Linked DNA regions of Homo sapiens. The protein of the gene in region 1 interacts with the protein of each later gene in a biochemical or structural test. Each region holds a gene or a part of one and is shown in the gene's direction. Other genes may lie near its edges.

Region 1 (7,968 bases):
GCTGTTTGGTTTCCTCTCCAGAGGTCCTAATTGGAAAGATCTGAACATTACCTTCAGTGGCCAGAGAGCCTTGCTTTATTTCTTTTCTTAAGACAGGATCTCACTCTGTCACCCAGGCTAGAGCACAGTGGCATGATCATGGTTCACTGCAGCCTCGACCTCCCGGGCTCAAGTGATCCTCCCACCTCAGCCTCCTGAGTAGCCCTGAGTAGCTGGGACTACAGGCATGCACCACCATGTCCAGCACAGCTAATTTTTGCTGGTTTTTGTTTTGTTTGTTTGTTGTAGAGACGGGGTTTTGCTATGCTGTCCAGGCTGGTCCTGAACTCCTGGGCTCAAGTGACCCACCCGCCTCGGCCTCCCAAAGTGCTGCCTTGCTTTATTTTTGAGGGGACTCAATGCTACAGCATTGACATTTTGTCAATCAGAATTTTATGGTGGCAAGGGCGCTGAATTGGGTATAAGGAGACTCAGGTTTTGGTTCTAGCTTTGCCACTAAATACATAAATTAGTTCGAGAAAGTCAGTTAATCTCTGAACTGCAATTCCTTGTTTTTAAAATGAGTGGGGTTGAGATGGATACATTTCTTTCTAGTTCTTACTTATCAGATAATCTTGTCAAGTTCTTCCACCAAAACTGTACCAATCTCCTAGTCTTTAAACACTAAGAACACATCTAAATAGTTAAGAAAATAAGTAGAAGCAAAACAAATGCAACAAAGTCACTTAGAAGCTGGAACTTTTATATAAAATCAATATATGCTGAAATAATCAGGTTTTTCAAAACTTCTCAGTAATCGCTTGTTTTTTTTTTTCCTCCTGCTTAATAATTTCAGGTCTAGAGGTGCAACATTTTCTGAACTCTAAATCCAGCTTCCCATAGGGGAGAGTAAAGTCACAGCCAATTCCCCACCATATTCTCAGTTCTCTTAATGAAAAGGAAGAAATCCTATAATACATCTTCATTATGGTAGGCCAATATATGTGAAAGTTAAAGAAGAAGCATAGTCCATAAAGGCAGTGGTGACAGGGAATGGATATTGTAAATTCACTTTGTTTACATGCCCTAGAGATCATCAGTGACATCATTATAGAGTTATTCAGAATTATGGCATTATGGTTCATGTAAATTCTTTGGATATTATATGTCACAAAGGAAGCTCAAACCAGCCCAACAGGTAGCATTATCTTGCTGGGTAGCCACAGACTGATGTATGGTCCAGCTTTCAGGCCCAGGACTTTTTCCCAATGGAATCCTGAAGAATTATTCAGGTTAAACTTCTAATTGTCTAGAAGGCTTGTGCTACTCAATATGGTAGTCATCAGCCACACCGAACTCTTTAAATGTGAGTTCAAATTGAGATGTCTTAGAAGTGTAAGATACACACTTTGAAGATAGTACCAAAAAAAAAAAAAAAGAGGAATGTAGAATACATCATTCATGGTTTTACCCTTGATTAAATGTGGAAATAATATATATTTTATATTGATTAAGTTAGGTAAAATCTATTAAAATTAATTTCATCTGTTTTTTACTGTTTTATTGTGGCTGCTTGAAAATTTAAAATTAAATATTTGGTTCACATTTGGGGCTCAAATTATATTTCCAATGGGACAGTATGGGTCTATACCATTAATTCATTCAATACAGGGGCATTCCTGCCTGTTTTGCATGATGTTCTTAGCACCAAATTGCAATGATTAATAAATGTGCTGAATGCATTACTACTGAGTGCCAAACAGAGCGTGATAACCAAGGTCCACTCTCCCCCTGAACATTGCTGGAGACATCCTGAAATACCTTTACTCTCTTATTCTTGCACTTTTTTGTTCCAAACTGACCATTTCCCTCATGTTCTTTTTTGTATCAATTAAGTTGAGATTAATACTTCACTGTTTTCCAGTTTCAAATATGCTAATACACAAAGCTTCCTTATTTTAAGCTCCAGTCCCTTGAATAACTTGAATTCTCCTCAATCTCCTTAGTCAATTAATTGCATTTTCTTCCTTAGGGTGATATGCTGGATAGCCTCCTGTCAATTTAGCATCAACTTTAGCTTCTTCAAATGCAGAGACTACATTTCCCAGAATCTCCCTCCCGGCCTGTATATTTCCAAGTTGGAATCTAACAATGAGAGCCTTTCGCTCAAAGTTTAGAAGGAAGAAGAGAAGACCATTATATACCAGAGTCAGTTATAGAAAGATGCATCGGCATCAAAGCTGCTTCCAGATGAACTTCTTGAGGACTTACTGCATCGGTGTTGCTGACTGAGATAGCAGGTGCAGGAGTAAAGCTAATGAAGTTTAAATTTCAGGGCTCCTGTCTTGCACGGACCCTTTCGAAGACTCTGGGAGCAGTCCTAGCATTTTAGTATTCATAACTTTATTTTATCTCAAAAAGGGCTCTCTAAATTGTATTAGTTTTAAGCATCACAAAACCTGAATCCAGCCCTGAATTGCTGAGAACTTCCGAAAGATCTTGTGGCTCCAGTGGCTTCAGGAGAACTCCTGAGAACCACTGTCTTGGGGACTGGAGGCTGAGATCTTCAGTGGAGCTTCTCTGAGTTTCCCTCCTTCAGCCCTTCCAACAGTTGTGAGAGCTTTAACTTCCTCCATACTAGGAACAGAGTGGCATTTGTTTTTATGATCAAACCAATAATTGCTTAAAAATGACTGCTGTCAGCAATTAGATTATAATTCTTTGTTGACTTACTCTTAAACTTAGTAAATGATGATATTGTCTTACAATAGAAATGTTGATAGTGAAAAATAATTTTAACATCATATCAAAAGACCTTACAACCGGCTCCATTTTGGTCAACATTGGATACTCACAATGGTGTACTTTGTCCGGGACATAGCATTTGCTTAGCAAATATGAGTGTATGAATTAGTGAATGAAGGAATGGATAAATTTATGTGTATCTGTATCCAAGTTGCTTCCTACTTATGATTATTAAAACATAGATCATATTTGTTCTAATTTTCTTTAGATTTATTTAGTACAATACCAACAACTTCCAGCTGCTCACTGCTTTGTTTGGATGACAATGATGAGTAGTTTTGGAAGCCAGTCCAGCACAAATTCTAGGAAATCCCAGGGTGCATCTGTAATTATTTTAGGGTCTTCCAGAGGTTGGAGATCACACCTGTTAGTTATGAATTACTTCCAAGGATGAATTTTTTTAAAAGGCTTTACTGTTGGATCGGTTTGAAGAGTTCAATCTCCTTACTTTTTTTTCTTGTAATGTAATTCTGAAAGGTAAATAGCAATGATAATCATTTTGCTGAATAAGAAAGTCAATGGTCAGTCCTCACCAGAATAAATCATGTTTATAATTTAATTGTAATTAAGACCATAATCTTTCACATGAAGAAATAATTTAATCATTCTTAGAATTAGACCAGCATTTTAAAAGCATCTACATTTATATAACATCACTGTATGCTCCATACTGAAGTCAAACTAAAATATGAATCTAACATTTAAGAGTTTGTAATTTTTTAAATATTGATGAATTACATAGAAAAGCTCAAAATTACATAATTTGCTATTTTTTCAAATAACTTATTTTCTTTGTGTTTTTTGTGGATGAAATAAGAAAGTAAGAATTCAGGAAAGTTTCATAATAATTGATAGCAAATGTGCAGATAAGTAATTGAGTTTGGAAGAATTTGGTCTGTTTTCATTTTGTAAACATTCACTATGTCCAAACTCTGTGCTACGTACTGTACTAACCAGTGGAGATACAAAGATGAATTACACTTGATAGTTACCCTACTGATGTTAAGGTAGACATCGACATTACAGACATATTCCTGGAAAAAAATTTGGTAAATTGTTTGAGGGAACAGGCAATAACTTAAAAAACAAACAAAACAAAGGAGCTTTAGGTGGACCGGACACTGGAGTGACACATGATAATCTCATCTACTTTTCATGTCACCTTTGAGAACCTCTCATAAAGCAGGAAACCGACTCTGGGACATTGAATCTCTGTCCCAAGTTAACCTGGTTAATAAAAAACAAAGCCAGAATTTATACCTAGTCTGTCTGAACCCTAGGGGCCAAATAGTCCTGTATTCCAGACAGTCTTTGGGTACAGATCCCAGACCCTCTGGCCCTGTGTTTACTACCATCCAGCCCATTCTCAAAGGGCATGTGGGCTCTTCAACTTGGGAATAATGTTTATTGGGTGATCTGTTTCTCTATACCTCTCATCCTCGAGGCTAAGAGGGCTCAGTTCCTTAAGCTTTCACCAGCTGGCAGAGGCAACTGGAGCAGAAGGTAGGAAGTGGATTTATTCAGCTTTTTTTGTGTGTGTTCCTTATTAAATATATATTGACAGCTCCTTATTTGTTGCGGTTAAATTGGTGTAAACTCTGAATTTACATTAAATCTGTGAGGTCAATTTCCTCATCTGCGTGTTACAGATGAAATTATCCGTATATTACCTTTCAGGAGTAAGTTGCCAAATAGTCTTAAGGTTTTATTATTCCAGGTCTTAACAGCTGTGCTACGAATAGCTGCTGGTGCTTGATACATGTTGAATGACTGACTAGATGCAAAGGATTTAAAAACAAGTGTTTGAGAGGGTAAAGCGCAGAGTAGTTTGGGTGCCCTATTTTACCTCTCCTTGTCAGCTGCGGGTGTCAAGACGGGTTGAGGGAGGAGAGCCAATGCACCCCGCTCCAACAAAGGGTCAGCAGCGCGGGCTCCTCGGAACGCTCCAGAAGACAACCCGGGCGCCCCGTTCACCCTGGCTTTCCTTGGTTCTGCAACGCGACCCGCGCGCTCGCGTCCCGGCGGATTGGAGCCATAGAAAGCGCACCGGGCGCCTTTAAATGCTAATGAGAGTCCAGGGCCCGACTCCCGAGCCAAGTTTCCCCACCCTCTCCCCTCGCCCGCCCTTCCCTCCCGGGCCGGTGCGCCGCCTAGAAAAACTTGTGCGGGGCCATTTTTGGGGCAGTAAGATCGAGCGAGGAGCCCAAGAGAGAGCGCGCAGCACGAAGCTCGAGCCGCCTCCGCCGCGCGACCCCACCTCGGCCGCCGCCGCCTGCGCCGCGAGATCCGCCCCGGCCTCCCCGAGAGCGAGCCCCGGCCGCCGCGACCACCAGCCGCGCTAACCGCCGACCAACCGCCACCGAGGCGCCTGAGCGAGAGCAGAGGAGGAGGAGGCATGAGTGAGGCGGGCGAGGCCACCACCACCACCACCACCACCCTCCCGCAGGCTCCGACGGAGGCGGCCGCCGCGGCTCCCCAGGACCCCGCGCCCAAGAGCCCGGTGGGCAGCGGTGCGCCCCAGGCCGCGGCCCCGGCGCCCGCCGCCCACGTCGCAGGAAACCCCGGTGGGGACGCGGCCCCCGCAGCCACGGGCACCGCGGCCGCCGCCTCTTTAGCCACCGCCGCCGGCAGCGAAGACGCGGAGAAAAAAGTTCTCGGTGAGTCAGGCCAGGGAGGGCAGGGGCTGCCGTAGTGGGGCGGGCCCAGCCGGCCGCGGAGCACGTGTGGGCAGCTCGCGCTACATCTCCCACCCGGGCTGGAGACGCTGACAGCACAGGGTCCCCAGGGATCTCCGGGTCCCCAGGGGTCTCCGGGTCCCCAGCGCTGGCCGCCTCCCTTGCCGGCGCTCCCAGGTGAGCGCGCTGCGCCCTGCGCTCCTGGCGGCCGTGTGCATCTCCCTTCTGGTTCCGGGCCAGAAAGTTTAGGTCTTAACTTCTGTCTCCCAGACGGGCACTGTTGCGGATTCGCGTGGTGGAAAATGCCTGCGTTTGGAGAAGAAAGGAGAGGCAGTCTGGGAGAGGGGACCTTGGGTAGGGATGGATGTAGGGGAAGGACCGACACGTGGGCCTGGCGCTTTGGGGTCCTTGCTTGGGATCTGGGAAAGGAGAGCATTTCCTTTGGGGAAGAGGAGGGCGCTAGAAGGAGACGGGGAGGGAAAGATAGAAAAGCTTCTTGCCAGGAAGGGTCAGGTGTCTGTCCCTGACGCCCTTCCCACATGGGCATGGGAAAGACGCCATGCTCCTGTTGGCCACATGCCAGCAAAGAGATGTTGCAATCGTCTCCGGGAAACTTGGGTCTTAGTCCCACGTCTTCCTCCCCCTCTCTGTGCCCACGGCTGCAAACAGCCATTCAGTGTCCACCAATGGCTACACGCTTCCCTCTTCCCGGACTGTGGGAACGCACGTGGTGTAGCAGCTGAAAAAACTTTGTCGGAAGTGGGGGTATGACGTTAGTTCAAAACATTGTTACCTTGGCACTTGTAACGTAGGAAGGGAAACAGGAAGATGAAATGTTGAGATTTGGGGGGGCAGTGGATGGAAAGGGTTTCTGTGATGGTTGTTGGTTTAGTCACATAACAAGCGTTCTTTTCGTAAGTAACGCCCCTGTGTGAGTTCTTAAACGCTTGCAAAGCAGGTGGGTGGTGAATAACCTCCCTAAAGGGTGTGTGTCCATATCGTTCGCTCTTATAAACAGGAACGTTAACAGATGGTGTAGGATGCTTCGGAGACCTCTTCACTATTTGGGGTGGGGCATGTTTGTCTCATCTCTCTGAGCCCTACTTCCCCTTTGGGAAGAAAGTTGAGGGAGCAATGTGAGAGAAGTGTATTCAATATTCCCCACCTTGAGAGGACTATTTTCTTGTTTTTTTTTTCTAGGGCTTTTACTAAGTCCCTACCAAACAACATGCTAATTGTAACCTGTGTAGGTTAAGAAACAAAATAGGCCTGATTTTGCTGGACTAAAAGTTGCTTAAATCTAGTCAGTAGTACATTGTGATGTTGTTTCTAGCAAATATTTCTTGGAACACTTTCTGCCAGATGTCTGAGAGAGAAAACCTTGTGTTCTCCAAAGCAGTGTTAGGATAACATTGTTAATGATACCTTATTTTGTAGAAAGCTTTTGCGGTTTTTCACTTAATCCTGTACTGTTCTGAGATTGGGAAAGCAGATACTATCTTTAAAGATGAAGGAAACAGATAAATGAAGGTTAATTTCCTCAAGCAACTGCCTCTGCAGATCCCTGGTGATGAGTCTGATGCCTTTTATCTTTCCACTCTTACTGCGTCTCTCTAAAAATGAAGGACAGCCCTTTCTACGTGACACCTCAACACTGTTTGTCTCTGTCTAGTGTGTCCTGCCATCCCCTTTCCTTTGCCAAGCAAACACATAGATGCCTAAGATGTACTAGGCACAATGCTGACTAAAATGGATATGTTCTAGTATTTGCAAATGGGCCTTCACTTGAGTTTATAAGCACATAGGCCAGGAAAAATAGTTTTCATGAGTGCAAAAAAATTTTCCTTCTGATAAATGTTATGGAAATCTATGGTCTTCCTCCCCAACCCTTCCCCTTAGTGTATATGAAGTGGGTTTATGGTTTAAAGCAAGACGTGGGAATGAATTTGATCATAAGAAGTCCTTGGAGAAGTATTTGCGGAATTACGAAACTTTTTTAAACTACATTGGAGAGTAAAAATAACCTTCAGCTTGGATTGAGGTTAGACCTGAGAATTATTTATCATCTTTTTCCTTTATTATTAGTATTGTCATTTTAATCAAGATTATTCCTTCAACAATGCTAGATATTAAAAACAGTTCCAGTCTTTATATTTTCCCAGGTAATTAATTTTTTGGGCAAATGAAAAGAGGCACTAAACGCATATTATTTGGAATATTGCCTGACTTAAATGCATATAATGTATCAAAAACAGGCCTCTACTGTGTACATTTGCATCGAAAACATCAACTGTTTTTTTCTCCTTTGCCTTGCTGCTCCAATCAGAGTGGCCTCAAACGTAAGATGGCCTGGGTTTGATCTCTCCTTTGGAGAGATGAGAGATCTTTGGAATTAAAGCTGGAGAATGCCTCATCAGTGTAGACTGCATAACTTTGGAGATATAAAGACATGTTTTTTTTGTTTTGGATTTTCTTTCCCCCAACAAAGAGAGCTAAAGTATTTTCCCAA
Region 2 (7,023 bases), on another chromosome or scaffold:
AAAAAAAACAGCTGAGGGCTGGGCACAGTGGCTCATACCTGTAATCCCAGCACTTTGGAAGTCCAAGGCGGGAGGATCGCTTGAGCCCAGGAGTTCAAGACTAAGCTGGGCAACATATGGAGACCTCATCTCTACAAAAAAATACAAAAATTAGCTAGGTATGTTGGCATGCGCCTGTAGTCCCAGCTAGTTGGGAGGCTGAGAGGCTGAGGCAGGAGGATTGCTTGAGCCCAGGAGGTCAAGACTGCAGTGAGCCCTGATTGCACCACCGTACTCCAGCCTGGGTGACAGAGTGACACCCAGTCTAAAAAACAAAAACTGCTCATCATGTTTCCAAAGTGGCTGTAGCATTTGCTGCTCCCCCCAGCAATGAATGGCATTTCTAGTTTGAGCCTCAGTTGTATTGAAAAGTGGGGATAAAAAGAGTACCCACTCCAGGACAGTGTTGTGTGGATTTAAACGAGGTTTTGTGTGTACAGGGCTCAGAACAGAGCCAGGCACACAGGAGGTCCTCGGGTTGGAGCAGGTGGGTCTGACGCACTGGGTGTCTGTTTGCTGCCTCCCCCTCAGGTGTAGAGCAGACCAAACAGTGCAAGGAGGAGCCCAAGGAGGAGAAGGTGGTGAAGACAGAGAGCGTCCTGATCAAGCGGCGCCTGTCAGCCCAGGGCCAAGCCATCTCGGTGGTGGGTTCCCTGAGCTCCATGTCCCCCCTGGAGGAAGAGGCACCGCAGGCCAAGAGGAGGCCAGAGCCCATTATCCCTGTCACTCAGCCCCGGTGAGTCCTCTTCTGGGTGCTAGGGCAGGACAGGAGCCCTACCCTGAAGGTCTGGTTCTCAGCTCGTGTGCGTGTGCGTGTGCGTGTGCGTGTGTGTGTGTAACTGAGATGCAGACAGAAGGAAGTCTGGAATAGGTTCTCTCTGACTCCCGAGTCAGTGCCATAACCACTAAGCCTTTGCTGTTCTCTTTCCTGTAAAAAAAAAAAAAAAAAATCCTTTTTTATGTCTAAAATTAGGATAATGATAGTATCTTTCTCATAAGGATCAAAGAAGAATTAAATTAGTTCGTGGTAATGGTGATGGTTAGGTAACTAGATACTCGAGTGAAAAGTGATTGTGATTGTCAAGCATTTCGCGTGGTTCCTGTTGTGTAGTAAATGCTACTGGCTGTCATCATCATTGTCCCCATTATTACCTCCCTTACACACCACAAAATCCAGCCAGTCCCGGCCACCCAAGTCTTTTTATTATTTATTTATTTATTATTTTTTTTTGAGTCGGAGTCTCACTCTGTCTCCCAGGCTGGAGTGCAGTGGCGCGATCTCAGCTCACTGCAAGCTCCGCCTCCCGAGTTCATGCCATTCTCCTGCCTCAGCCTCCCGATTAGCTGGGACTACAGGCGCCCGCCACCACGCCTGGCTAATTTTTTGTATTTTTAGTAGAGACGGGGTTTCACCGTGTTAACCAGGATGGTCTCGATCTCCTGACCTCGTGATCCGCCTGCCTCAGCCTCCCAAAGTGTTGGGATTACAGGCGTGAGCCACCGTGCCCAGCCCCAAGTCTTACTAACACAGCTGAGCGGGATCTGCTACCCTCCGAGCTCTCTTCTGCTACCCTCACCCCTCCTCCACTCGTGCCCACAAGTCTGTTCCCACCTAAGGGCCTTTGCCTGGAGAGCTGGTCCCCCAGACATTTGTGTATCTTGTCCCTGCCTCCGTTCAGATCCCCACTCACAGAAGCCTTCCGTAAGACGCCCTCTGCAAAACCAAAATAACATCCTCTTCCTTCCTCTTACCCACCGCCACACCGTGCCTCAGAGACACAGAGGAACTGGAGAGGCAGCAGGGGGATGGGGGCCATCTCTGTTGCCTACCTAGTCCTTGAAGTTGGGAGAGTCACCAGACAGGCCTTTGCTGCAGTCTGGGTCACTGCATCTCTGTCACTGCTCTTCCACACAGGCTGGCAGGCGCTGGTGGGCGCAAGAAAATTTTCCGTCTCAGCGACGTGCTGAAGCCCCTTACCGATGCCCAGGTGGAAGCCATGAAGCTGGGCGCTGTGAAGCGGATCCTGCGGGCTGAGAAGGCTGTGGCCTGCAGCGGGGCAGCCCAGGTGTGCGCCTGCCACCCCCCACCCCATCCTTCCAGTCCCTCTACCCAAACGTCTACCTCACATCCAGCGAAGAGTCTGGCCCTGGCGTCAAACCTCCCTGGCTGCGGACCCCAGCTCTGCTGCCCACAGCCGCTTCTCCAGATCACTCCCATCCTCCATAAAACAGAGACAGTAGCAGCAGCTCCTCCTGGGTGACGAGGAGGAAATGTGCAATGAGCACAGGCACTCAGGTGCACAGGGCAGGTGCTGGGAGGCCTCTGCAAGTGAGGGCTGCTCTTGTGGTCTTGGTTCTTCACGGTTGTTAACGTTCTTACTGTTACTATTTAGCTTTAGAAATATACCTGGTTCTCTGTCCTGATTCTGCCACTTGCTGGCACTGTTACCTTCAAAGAATGGGGAAAAGTGACTTTTTCCCCATTCTGTGAAGTTAATTGTTGATTAGCCAGTAGTATAGGAACATACTCCCTGAGCTGAAAAATATTTCCGGGGAATCCAGATCCAGTACTCTTCCGTGGCCATCACCTGCACCCCATCCCTCTCTTCAAAGGTGACAAAGGCACAAATGAGGGGAATCTTTGAGGATCTTTTTCTGTGCACTTAAGTACATGGGTGCTGCTCCTAGAAACTCATTTTTATTCTGTGATGATCGATCCCCACCCTGGTACCCCCACCCCCCAACACACAAACGGGACCTTCCTAGGCATAAGGGTCCTCGGCTGGCCTTCCTCGCTTCACTCCTTGTCTGCTCTGAGAGTTCCTGCGTCTGGGTGGGAGAAGTCGCAGGGCACGATTGCGGAGTCCCTGGATTGCCCACCCTACACTGACATGCTGGCTCACCCTCCCACCAGGTCCGCATAAAGATCCTGGCCAGCCTGGTGACACAGTTCAACTCGGGCCTGAAGGCGGAGGTCCTGTCCTTCATCCTGGAGGATGTGCGGGCCCGCCTGGACCTGGCCTTCGCCTGGCTCTACCAGGAGTACAACGCCTACCTGGCCGCAGGTGCCTCGGGCTCCCTGGACAAGTATGAGGACTGCCTCATCCGCCTGTTGTCTGGCCTGCAGGAGAAACCAGACCAGAAGGATGGGTGAGGGGGCTGACCCTGCACCCTCCTGTCCCCGAGAGGCTTCCTCTCCTGGTGCTGCCCTCCCTTTCTGATTGCGACCACCTCCCTCTTCGTCACCCCCCGAGTCAGTCCTCCTCGCACCCATCCCAAGTCTCCTCTCCTCCTCCCCCTCTGGAGGCACGTTCAAGGTTGTAGTTTTGCATGTGGGCTCCAGGTCGCACTCCCTGAGCTGTTCCTCAGCTCTGCCACTTGCTCTGAGCTTGCTCTGCGTGGCTTTGTCACTCCCTCTCTCTGCCATTTTCCCATCTGTAAATAACAGTGCTCACCCATGGGCCTGGAGATAGACTTCTCTACACCCCATTCACTACCTGAGTTGGTTCTGTAGCTTCCTCCCTATCCGTGGCCTCCAGCTTACTCGTCTATCCTCCACACAGCAGCTCCAGGAACATTTTATTATATAAATCCTTTTATTACTTCCCCACAAGGAACCTTCCATGGTTCTCCATTGGTCTTGGGATAAAACACAGCCTCCTTACTGTGACCAGTGAGGCCTTATGTGACCCAATCTCTTTGGCTTTACCCCCCGAACATTAGCCACATTGGCCTTCTGTCTGTTCCTCGAACATGTCAAATTCAGGGCGCTGGTGCTTCCTGTTCTGTCCACCTGGAATGCTCTTCCCTCAACTCTATGTGTGGGTGGCTCCTTCTCATCCACCAGTGTACTCAACTGTAACTTCAAAGCGGCCTTTTGAGGCCACCATATCTAAAATACCCACACCCTTCTCCACCCGCCATCATTCCCTCCCGTTCTTATGTTCAGTGAATAAAGTTAGGAATCCCTGTTTGACAAACGGAAGAAATGAGTTTCAGAGAGGTGCAGTCTCTGCCCAGATCATCCAGCCGCCAGCTTTTGAACCCTGTTCTGTTCACCTCCAAAGCTTTATAAGCAGGGGCTTGAACAAGCAGCCCCTGAGGGAGGGCCTGCTGGCCCTGAGCTCCTACAATTCAGCAGGGCCCGGGAGCCAGGCGGCCTCTTCCTCTGCAGCCATGGCCCTCCCTCCATCTCTGGCAGGATCTTCACCAAGGTTGTGCTGGAGGCGCCACTCATCACAGAGAGTGCCCTGGAGGTGGTCCGCAAGTACTGCGAGGATGAGGTGAGGACAGGCCCTGGTCAGTGCAGCCCGGGGCAGGGGACAGGGCCCTGCCCTGAGGGGTCTGAAGGGCACACAGTCTAAACCTTGTGGCCGGGGGTTTTGTGAGGGACCGGGCCCTTTTGTCCAGGTACCTGATCAGAGGCAGGCAGGAAAGACAGAGCCCAGAGGCACACTCAGGTGGGCTGAGCTCGGGTCCCTTTCCTTTTGCTGCAGAGTCGCACCTATCTGGGCATGTCCACACTTCGAGACCTGATCTTCAAGCGCCCGTCCCGCCAGTTCCAGTACCTGCATGTCCTCCTCGACCTCAGCTCCCATGAGAAGGACAAGGTGATCCCCTCCTCCACTTCCTGGCTGCCCTCAGCCTGCAGCTTGCAGAGGCCGCCTCTATCCTGAGTAACCAGCCCACGTCTTCCACACTCCCTTGCAAGTTTCTCTGGGCCCATTCCCTTCTTTCAGTGGTTTTTTGGCTATTTCTGTCTGTTTTATTTTCATTTTCAGTGGCATCAAGCTGCCTAGAAACCAGGGTTACCGTGCCTGAGTCTGCCTGTAGTGTGTACACACACACACGTGCGCTTGCCCTCCTGGGAAGGGCAGTCCCACTCTCGCTCTTAGTCCACCCGTGGTGGCCAGCACAGGCTCCTCGTGCAGCCCAGTCCTGTGCCGGGGCCTGAGGGCATTGCCCAGCCCAGCAGGGGAGCCGGTGTGGCCTCAGCCAGCAGTGAGGACACAGCGTGCTCAGCAGCTGAGCAGAGCAGTGTGTGGCTGCCCTGGGGAGGGAGGGGCCGACCATCTGGTTGTGGGGTGGGCAGGGGAGGTGTTTCAAGGAAGGCTTCTTTCAAGGAGGGGACTTGTACGCTGAGACCTGGAAAATCAGTAGCTGGGTGTGCTCTAGACAGAGGGGACAGATGTGCACGTGCTGTGGTTGAGAGCGCCCTTGACCCATCGTTGCCTGCAGCCTTTTGCCCCAGCCCTTGCTGGGTAGCGTTTTCATTCATTCAGCAGACCTTCATCTCACACCCCTGGCCCTGGCCCTGGCCATGGCCATGTGCTGCTGCTGGGGTCAGAGTGCCCAGGACCAGACCCTTCCCTCACGGCTCCTGGCAGATGATATCTGAGTGAAACAGGGTTTAGCTGGCAGTAGACGTTCTAGGGAGACTTGGCAGGGAGTGGCACTTTTAAGGAACTGAGGAGCTCTCCCTCTGCTTGGAGCTTAGTGAGCAAGGCAAGAAGCAGTGATGGGCAGATGGGCTGGAGAGGCAGGCAGTGAGGTGGTGCTGCGGGTCCGGCCCTGGCCAGGATATCTGCCTCCTGCACTGGGGACCAGCCCTGGGCCCTGGTAACAGCTGGGCTGCCCCTTCTCAGCCTCGGGCTTGTTTTCACGTGAGTGTTGCCATGCTCGCAGGAATAGCTGTTCTTCCTCTTACCTCTTCCCTGACCCTGCCCTTCTCCATCTTCCTCCTCAGGTGCGCTCCCAGGCCCTGCTGTTCATCAAACGCATGTATGAGAAGGAGCAGCTGCGGGAGTATGTGGAGAAATTTGCCCTCAACTACCTGCAGCTCCTGGTGCACCCCAACCCACCGTCTGTGCTGTTTGGAGCTGACAAGGACACAGGTTGGGCACAGGTCATCAGATGCATACTGAGCGCTGCTGTGTCCGCGCTCTGGGCCCTGCGAGCAGAGGGGATGAGTGGGGAAGCCACTCGGACACGAGTGACGGGAATGGGCAGGACTGGGACAGCCACCTGGGGGCTGTGGGAGTCAGGGTAGGGGGCATCTGGCCCAGCCTGGGGGGTCAGGGAGAGAGATCTGGAGGACGAGGAGAGCCAGCCATCGGTGGGGCCTGAGGAAGGACCAGGCAGGGCCATCTCAGGCAGGTTCCCTCAGCAGAGCCCTGGATTACAGACAGGTAGACTCAGACCCCGAGTAAATGGACCATTAAATGGGAAGGCTTGGGCCATGATAGGGCAGCACGGGAGGCCTGGCCCAGGTGCCAGGAAGCATTCCCAGGAGATGCACAGCCTTCGGGAGGCCCAGAAGCTGAGCAGGTGCCGTGGACCAGGCAAAGAGGAGGGTGGATGCAAAGGCAAAGAGACCAGGGCCCTCGGGACTGTTAGAATGGGTATGTGACCAACATGGAGGGCAGCAGAGCAGCAGCGGGCCGGGGCCACCCCATACAACACCTGGCAGACAGTGTGAGGCAGGGAGCTGGGGGTTTATTCTGAGGCCACAGGGCAGGCATGGCTGGGATTGGAGCCAGAGAGGGACAGGGTCAGGATCGCACTTTAGAAAGATCCTTCTAGTTGCCTTGTGTGTTGGCAGTCACGGGAGGCTGGAGGTGGGAAGTCCTGGTCCCCGCCATTTCCCTGCCCTAGAACAATTAGCTCCCCAGCCCCGGCTCCCTTCTCTGCCCTCCCCGGCTCCACTGCCCAAGAAGGGACATTCCTGAGGGTCCGAGGGGGTTGGAGAAGAGTGTGGGCCAATCTGATGCCCGCTCCTGCCCTGTCAGAGGTGGCAGCACCCTGGACGGAGGAGACAGTGAAGCAGTGTCTGTACCTCTACCTGGCCCTCCTGCCTCAGAACCACAAGCTGATCCACGAACTGGCGGCCGTGTACACTGAAGCCATCGCCGACATCAAGCGGACGGTGCTGAGGGTCATTGAGCAGCCGGTGAGGCCCCTGAGCCCACCAGGCCCTGCCCACCC
Region 3 (7,023 bases), on another chromosome or scaffold:
GTACAGGCTTCTGCTTCTGGGGAGGCCTCAGGCAACTTACAATCGTGGCGGAAGGGGAAGGAAGCATGTCTTATATGGCTGGAGCAGGAGGAAGAGAGTTGGGGAGGTGCTGCACACTTAAAAAAACAGATCTTGGGAGAATTCTATCACAAGACTGTGTGAGGGAGATGGTGCTAAACCATTAGAAACCACCCCCATGATCCAGTCACCTCCCACCAGGCCCCTCCCCCAACACTGGGGATTACAATTCAACATGAGATTTGGGTGGGAACACAAATCCAAACCATATCAGTTGTTTCCTAAACATAAATATATTAGCTCTTATTCAACTTTTGAACTGTTGGGTTTATTTCATAGGTATTCTTCCATGTGCTATTCTGTCAGTGTGTCCTTGTTTCTGTGAGCTTAGTTTGGTAACATTCTCCCTCTTCCCCTTGCTTAAAAGGGCTGAAGAGCTAGTGAGTAGGTTTTATAAATCTGAGCAGTGTCAGAGTTTCTTCGTTGTCTTCCAGGGCTGGGCCCTGGAGTCTAACTTTGTCCTGGCTTACCGGCCACTGTTTCCTTCATCCATGCCCTTCAGATCTCAAGGGGTGCTCCATGTGTCTGCGTGTGTGCTTGTACAATCTTCTTGACTTTTCCTTACCAGAAGTTTCAAGAAGTAGATGTGACTTCTCCAGAGAAAGATATCCTTTTCAATCTGCCTTGTACGATAAAGGCCATCTCTTAAAGAACTACTGAATAAAATTTGTAATTTACTTTTATTTGACCCAGGCGGATGGTGCTACAAGTGATGACCTTGATTTGCATGATGATCGTCTGTCCTACCTGTCAGCTCCAGGTAGTGAATACTCAATGTATAGCACGGACAGTAGACACACTTCTGACTATGAAGACACAGACACAGAAGGCGGGGCCTACACTGATCAAGAACTAGATGAAACTCTTAATGATGAGGTTGGGACTCCACCGGAGTCTGCCATTACACGGTCCTCTGAGCCTGTAAGAGAGGACTCCTCTGGAATGCATCATGAAAACCAAACATATCCTCCTTACTCACCACAAGCGCAGCCACAACCAATTCATAGAATAGACTCCCCTGGATTTAAGCCAGCCTCTCAACAGGTAAGCAGCAAGCATTCAACGTTTTGTAGATAGAGGTGCATTATTAAATTTTAGAATGTGGTGATTGAGTTAAAAATATATATGTTGTCCTTTCTCCAGATTAAGAATTAATCTTCAATTTCAATTTGAGAGTACCAAGGGCTTAATTCTAAATTTTGTGTGTTTGTCTTAACACAGCAATGTACTGGATTTTTTTTTTTTCCCAAAAAGTTTAGGACATGAGGTCATAATTTTGTTATTCAGCACACTTAAAATGTATGTCTACCAATCACTATAAATTGAAGTGGAAAGTTAGCAGTAAACAGAAACACTATATTTAAAATATTTTAAACACTTCACAGAAAGCAGAAGCTTCATCTCCAGTCCCTTACCTTTCGCCTGAAACAAACCCAGCATCATCAACCTCTGCTGTTAATCATAATGTAAATTTAACTAATGTCAGACTGGAGGAGCCCACCCCAGCTCCTTCCACCTCTTACTCACCACAAGCTGATTCTTTAAGAACACCAAGTACTGAGGCAGCTCACATAATGCTAAGAGATCAAGAACCATCATTGTCGTCGCATGTAGATCCAACAAAGGTACCTGTGCTGCGGTGTTGCACTAATTTGTTGCTGTCCATCAATCTGGCACATGATCATTTTTGCTTTGCCCTTTAAGTGTTCCTTTTGCTTTTTTACTGCAGGCTTATACACTGTAATGCTTTCAAATCAATACAAATCATTTCAGTTTCGTAGTTTGCATGGCTTCCATTGGTATACTGATTATTTGAAAACAGGCCTTTTAATTGAGATTTGTGCTTATTATTTTTATTTTTGGCTTTCAGTATCTTCCAGAATTCCTTAATATGTAATCGAAACCCATCATAAACATATTTATGTTAATACAAATTATGATGCCCATAAATCTTCTTTAGGATTTTTCAGTGTCAAAATGAAGTGTAATCAATAGTGCATTAATTTTCTACTAAATTTAATATTTATCTTTAACTCACTGTTTATTTAGTACATGCTGAAACATAAAAGCCCCTACCTGCATTATAAATTTTGAGCTTTCACTTAAACCAGCTTTTTCCACTAATCTTGTCTATCCTGATAATAAATGGTAAAACATACCATTTTCACATATTAAATCGTAGTTTAATATTTAATCACAGTCTAATAAAATAGACTAGAATTAGAAACAAGACTTTGTCCTTAAATGTGAATTTTTTATACAGGTGTATAGAAAGGATCCATATCCCGAGGAAATGATGAGGCAGAACCATGTTTTGAAACAGCCAGCCGTTAGTCACCCAGGGCACAGGCCAGACAAAGAGCCTAATCTGACCTATGAACCCCAACTCCCATACGTAGAGAAACAAGCCAGCAGAGACCTCGAGCAGCCCACATACAGATACGAGTCCTCAAGCTATACGGACCAGTTTTCTCGAAACTATGAACATCGTCTGCGATACGAAGATCGCGTCCCCATGTATGAAGAACAGTGGTCATATTATGATGACAAACAGCCCTACCCATCTCGGCCACCTTTTGATAATCAGCACTCTCAAGACCTTGACTCCAGACAGCATCCCGAAGAGTCCTCAGAACGAGGGTACTTTCCACGTTTTGAAGAGCCAGCCCCTCTGTCTTACGACAGCAGACCACGTTACGAACAGGCACCTAGAGCATCCGCCCTGCGGCACGAAGAGCAGCCAGCTCCTGGGTATGACACACATGGTAGACTCAGACCGGAAGCCCAGCCCCACCCTTCAGCAGGGCCCAAGCCTGCAGAGTCCAAGCAGTATTTTGAGCAATATTCACGCAGTTACGAGCAAGTACCACCCCAAGGATTTACCTCTAGAGCAGGTCATTTTGAGCCTCTCCATGGTGCTGCAGCTGTCCCTCCGCTGATACCTTCATCTCAGCATAAGCCAGAAGCTCTGCCTTCAAACACCAAACCACTGCCTCCACCCCCAACTCAAACCGAAGAAGAGGAAGATCCAGCAATGAAGCCACAGTCTGTACTCACCAGAGTTAAGATGTTTGAAAACAAAAGATCTGCATCCTTAGAGACCAAGAAGGATGTAAATGACACTGGCAGTTTTAAGGTAAATATGTCTTTAGTGCCTTGGATGCATGGGCACACCGTTTAAAAGGCTTCTTGGCTCTCCCCTCCGCCATTACATGATATCTATTCTGTTAATTATCTGTTCCTTAGGCATATTTGTCTTTTTTTTTTTTTTTTTTTTAAACAGCCTCCAGAAGTAGCATCTAAACCTTCAGGTGCTCCCATCATTGGTCCCAAACCCACTTCTCAGAATCAATTCAGTGAACATGACAAAACTCTGTACAGGTGAGTACACTTTGTGCTCTTTGTGGCATAGAACTGACCAGGAATTTAACCCTCTTAGTCAATAAGAAAACCTTTTACTGTGTTAGTAGAGGAGAGGTGTGAATAGGAGGAGTTTGTCCTTAAATAAAAACTATCAGCTCTCCTAAACAGTGATTCTAGGGGGAAAAAAAGTAGAACTTTATTTCTGACAAATCTGACAAATCTTTATACCTTTAGCAGACTTTCGGAAAGATATTCTCCAAGCAGATGATTAAATAAACATTTTTAAGCTCTGACATTTGTATTATGTTTTTTAGTTTTAAAAGTGCTTTTCGACATGTGAACTCTTAGTTTCCAGTGGTGAGGAAACAGACTCAGATTGGTTAAGATAACTAAATCATTTAGTGAGCATGCATAAGGTGCTTGCCCTTGTGCTAAGCACATCAGCATAATGAGGTGACACTGTTGTTGTTCTGCATTGTAGAGAGAGACACTGAGGCTGAGAGGGGCAAGTAGCTTACAAGACTTAGAGCTGGAAGAGAAACCTGGCCTGCTGCTCCTCAGCCTGAGCTTTTTCCCATGGCCTCATTGCACTGCCAATAAGTGACAGATTAGATTTGAATACAGCTCTTCTGATTTTGTTTTTTGACTGAATATATGTTTGCACTTAGGATAAAGAAGAGAACTGTCTAATATGAATTTACTTAATGACTTGCTTTCTTCCTCATCTGCTTTGTATGCCTTCTAGAACTTTAGACCATATAGAGTTATTTGTTCATATGAGAATCATTGAGATCCTGGACTGAGTTCTTAAAAATCCCTTTGAAAGTTCTTAAAGTCTATCATTTACTGTTCTTGACCTTGGTATATGTACTTCTCAAGATGTTCACTGTCTCGGTTACATTGCCCTTTGTCTTTCTGATTAACTACTTCTAACCTGCTGTTCCCTAATCATGTAATCGTTTAGCTTATTATATTGTGTTAAAGGACTCATGAGCCAGAAGGGGGCTGCCTTTTGAGTATACTCTGTGAGGACATGGGATTTGAAATATCCATTTTAACTGTTGGGACTGCTCAGATCCTCAGTAATCACAGCAGTTAGTAATTATTGACCTTTTAGTCAAGATAAGACTTACATATTCTACTTCCTTCATAACATTAATATTTAAAAAGGTGTTCCGTTTGTCATTCATTATCTGTTAGGATCCCAGAACCTCAAAAACCTCAACTGAAGCCACCTGAAGATATTGTTCGGTCCAATCATTATGACCCTGAAGAAGATGAAGAATATTATCGAAAACAGCTGTCATACTTTGACCGAAGAAGTTTTGAGAATAAGCCTCCTGCACACATTGCCGCCAGCCATCTCTCCGAGCCTGCAAAGCCAGCGCATTCTCAGAATCAATCAAATTTTTCTAGTTATTCTTCAAAGTAAGCTATTTCACCTGGCTTTTAAAAATAGGATGCAGCATATTAATCCCGTGCAGTTCAATATATTTTGAAGAAAAATAATTTAAGTGTAATATATGATTTCTGTAGGCTCTAGTGGTTCAGCATTGTACATACTTTTTAGTTCTGGGATGTGTGTTTTGTTTTTAAAGTCTGCTATTAGATGTACATAGTTTTTGCATTCACAAAGATGCTAACATCACAGGGTTTTGACGGAAGACAGTGTCAACCACAAGGACCCTCATCGATAGGTAATCATCAGTCTTCACTTCTGTACACACACCTAATGATGTCATGCTGGTTCTTTTTCTTTTCTGTTTTTATTTTTTAAATATAAATACAGATGTGAGGAGGATCCTGTTTGAGGGAAATACTGAAGAGGTTTTTTGTTTTTTGTTTTTGTAAGATTTCTGATCCAGTTTTACAGGTGAGGGAAAATGACAGGGCAGAGCTGGGACTGAACCCCAAGTTTCTTGACTCCCAGTCATCTTTTCCCTGTGCTTGCTGCTCCCCTCCGTTTACTCATCCCTGGGTTTCGTGTTGGTTTGTTCTCCTTTCTTGTGCCTGCGTGGGTTTGTGTCTCCTACTGGTTCTGTGTCTCTGGTTGAACCCTGACTGATAAGAGAATTTGGTACTGATAGTTGTGTCTAAGCCCACACGGGCACACAGGTAGATTCATACCTCAATAGAACAAAACCCACAAGAACAAAAACAGATGTGGATTTGTCAAAAGAAATTCATTTACACAGTTACAGGGGCTGGCTAAGCAAGTCCTATTTCAGAGGGCAGTTGGTCAGGAAGGGAAGATTTTGAGCTACTGGGGAGTGTGAGATCAGGGAAGGCCTAAATTCTCATTCAGAGGGCTCTGCTGATTAGGCCAGGCCCTCCCAAGACCATCTCCCCTCAACTGACTTGGGGACATTACACCTGAAAAATCCCTTCATGGCAGTACCTAGCCAGATTGACATATTAGAATTCATCACACATAGTATTGTGTCTATATTAAAAGCACCTAGATTTTTCCTTACTTAGTTGCGTGGGCTTGGGATTATCTTGGGAAATGACCTATTTGTCATTTACTATTGAGTGTAAATTGTTTTAGAACATACTTTAAAACCACTAACATTAAAACCTAATTTTAATTACCACTGCTTTTTTCTAAGACATCCTTTGTAGTGAAGACTTTTTTCACTGTCCTATATTTAAGGCTTTATGTTTACAGAAGAAAGCAGTTTATGAGAATCCAAATGCAAACTGAGAGTGCTGCAGTGGGGGTTGTATTAAATGCAAAACGTGTCTTGTACTAGTGTTGTGAACCACCCCTTAGCACAACACTAGAAAGGGGTTGTGGCATCTAGATGGTGTCTGGACTGAAGTGAGCTAGCACAATATAAACCCACACAGGTGCACAGCTGGGTTCATACCTCAACAGAACAAAACCCACAAGAACAAAAACAGATGTGGATTTGTCATTAGGAATTCATTTACATTTACAGTGTTACAGGAATTCATTTACACAGTTATCACAGTAACATCTAAATGGTGACTAGCCTAAAGTGAGCTAGGCACTGAGCCATAGGAGCTCACCTTTGGTAAGGCAGAAGGGTGTACCCTTTAGTTATTATTTTTACTAAACACCGTTAAACACATTCATTCCTGTCAGAAGAAGGCTCAGGTGTTTAGTTTAAAGATATCTCTTATTTATCGTTTTACATATTTGGTAAATAGAATACAACCTTAAAAAGATTATATGGCCAGGCGCAGTGGCTCGTGCCTGTAATCCCAGCACTTTGGGAGACCAAGGCAGGCTGATCATGAGGTCAGGAGATCGAGACCATCCTGGCTAACACGATGAAACCCCATCTCTACTAAAAATACAAAAAAATCAGCGGGGCGTGGTGGCGGGCTCCTATAGTCCCAGCTACTCGGGAGACTGAGGCAGGAGAATGGCGTGAACCCGGGAGACAGAGCTTGCAGTGAGCCGAGATCGTGCCACTGGACTCCAGCTTGGGCAACAGAGTGAGACTCTGTCTCAAAAAAAAAAAAAAAAAAAAAGGCTGGGCGCAGTGGCTCACGCCTGTACTCCCAGCACTTTGGGAGGCCGAGGTGGGTGGATCATGAGGTCAGGAGATCGAG

What was found. Proteins that work in one complex are often made in the same cells at the same time.
Region 2: the proteins of YBX3 (region 1) and SYMPK form a complex in vitro, tested with the Homo sapiens proteins (one study listed by BioGRID).
Region 3: the proteins of YBX3 (region 1) and TJP1 form a complex in vitro, tested with the Homo sapiens proteins (one study listed by BioGRID).

The regions. Positions count from the first base shown.
Region 1 is NC_000012.12:10,720,323-10,728,290, reverse strand, and holds the start of YBX3 (Y-box-binding protein 3), read left to right. Parts: upstream 1-5,179; coding exon 5,180-5,441; intron 5,442-7,968. Other genes in the region: uncharacterized protein LOC124902876, read right to left, coding at 3,185-3,254, 4,631-5,181. UniProt on the Homo sapiens protein: Binds to the GM-CSF promoter. Seems to act as a repressor. Also binds to full-length mRNA and to short RNA sequences containing the consensus site 5'-UCCAUCA-3'. May have a role in translation repression.
Region 2 is NC_000019.10:45,825,136-45,832,158, reverse strand, and holds part of SYMPK (symplekin), read left to right. Parts: intron 1-570; coding exon 571-775; intron 776-1,954; coding exon 1,955-2,105; intron 2,106-2,953; coding exon 2,954-3,189; intron 3,190-4,240; coding exon 4,241-4,322; intron 4,323-4,535; coding exon 4,536-4,649; intron 4,650-5,785; coding exon 5,786-5,933; intron 5,934-6,827; coding exon 6,828-6,988; intron 6,989-7,023. UniProt on the Homo sapiens protein: Scaffold protein that functions as a component of a multimolecular complex involved in histone mRNA 3'-end processing. Specific component of the tight junction (TJ) plaque, but might not be an exclusively junctional component. May have a house-keeping rule.
Region 3 is NC_000015.10:29,714,457-29,721,479, reverse strand, and holds part of TJP1 (tight junction protein 1), read left to right. Parts: intron 1-771; coding exon 772-1,122; intron 1,123-1,463; coding exon 1,464-1,703; intron 1,704-2,341; coding exon 2,342-3,214; intron 3,215-3,361; coding exon 3,362-3,459; intron 3,460-4,641; coding exon 4,642-4,869; intron 4,870-7,023. UniProt on the Homo sapiens protein: TJP1, TJP2, and TJP3 are closely related scaffolding proteins that link tight junction (TJ) transmembrane proteins such as claudins, junctional adhesion molecules, and occludin to the actin cytoskeleton.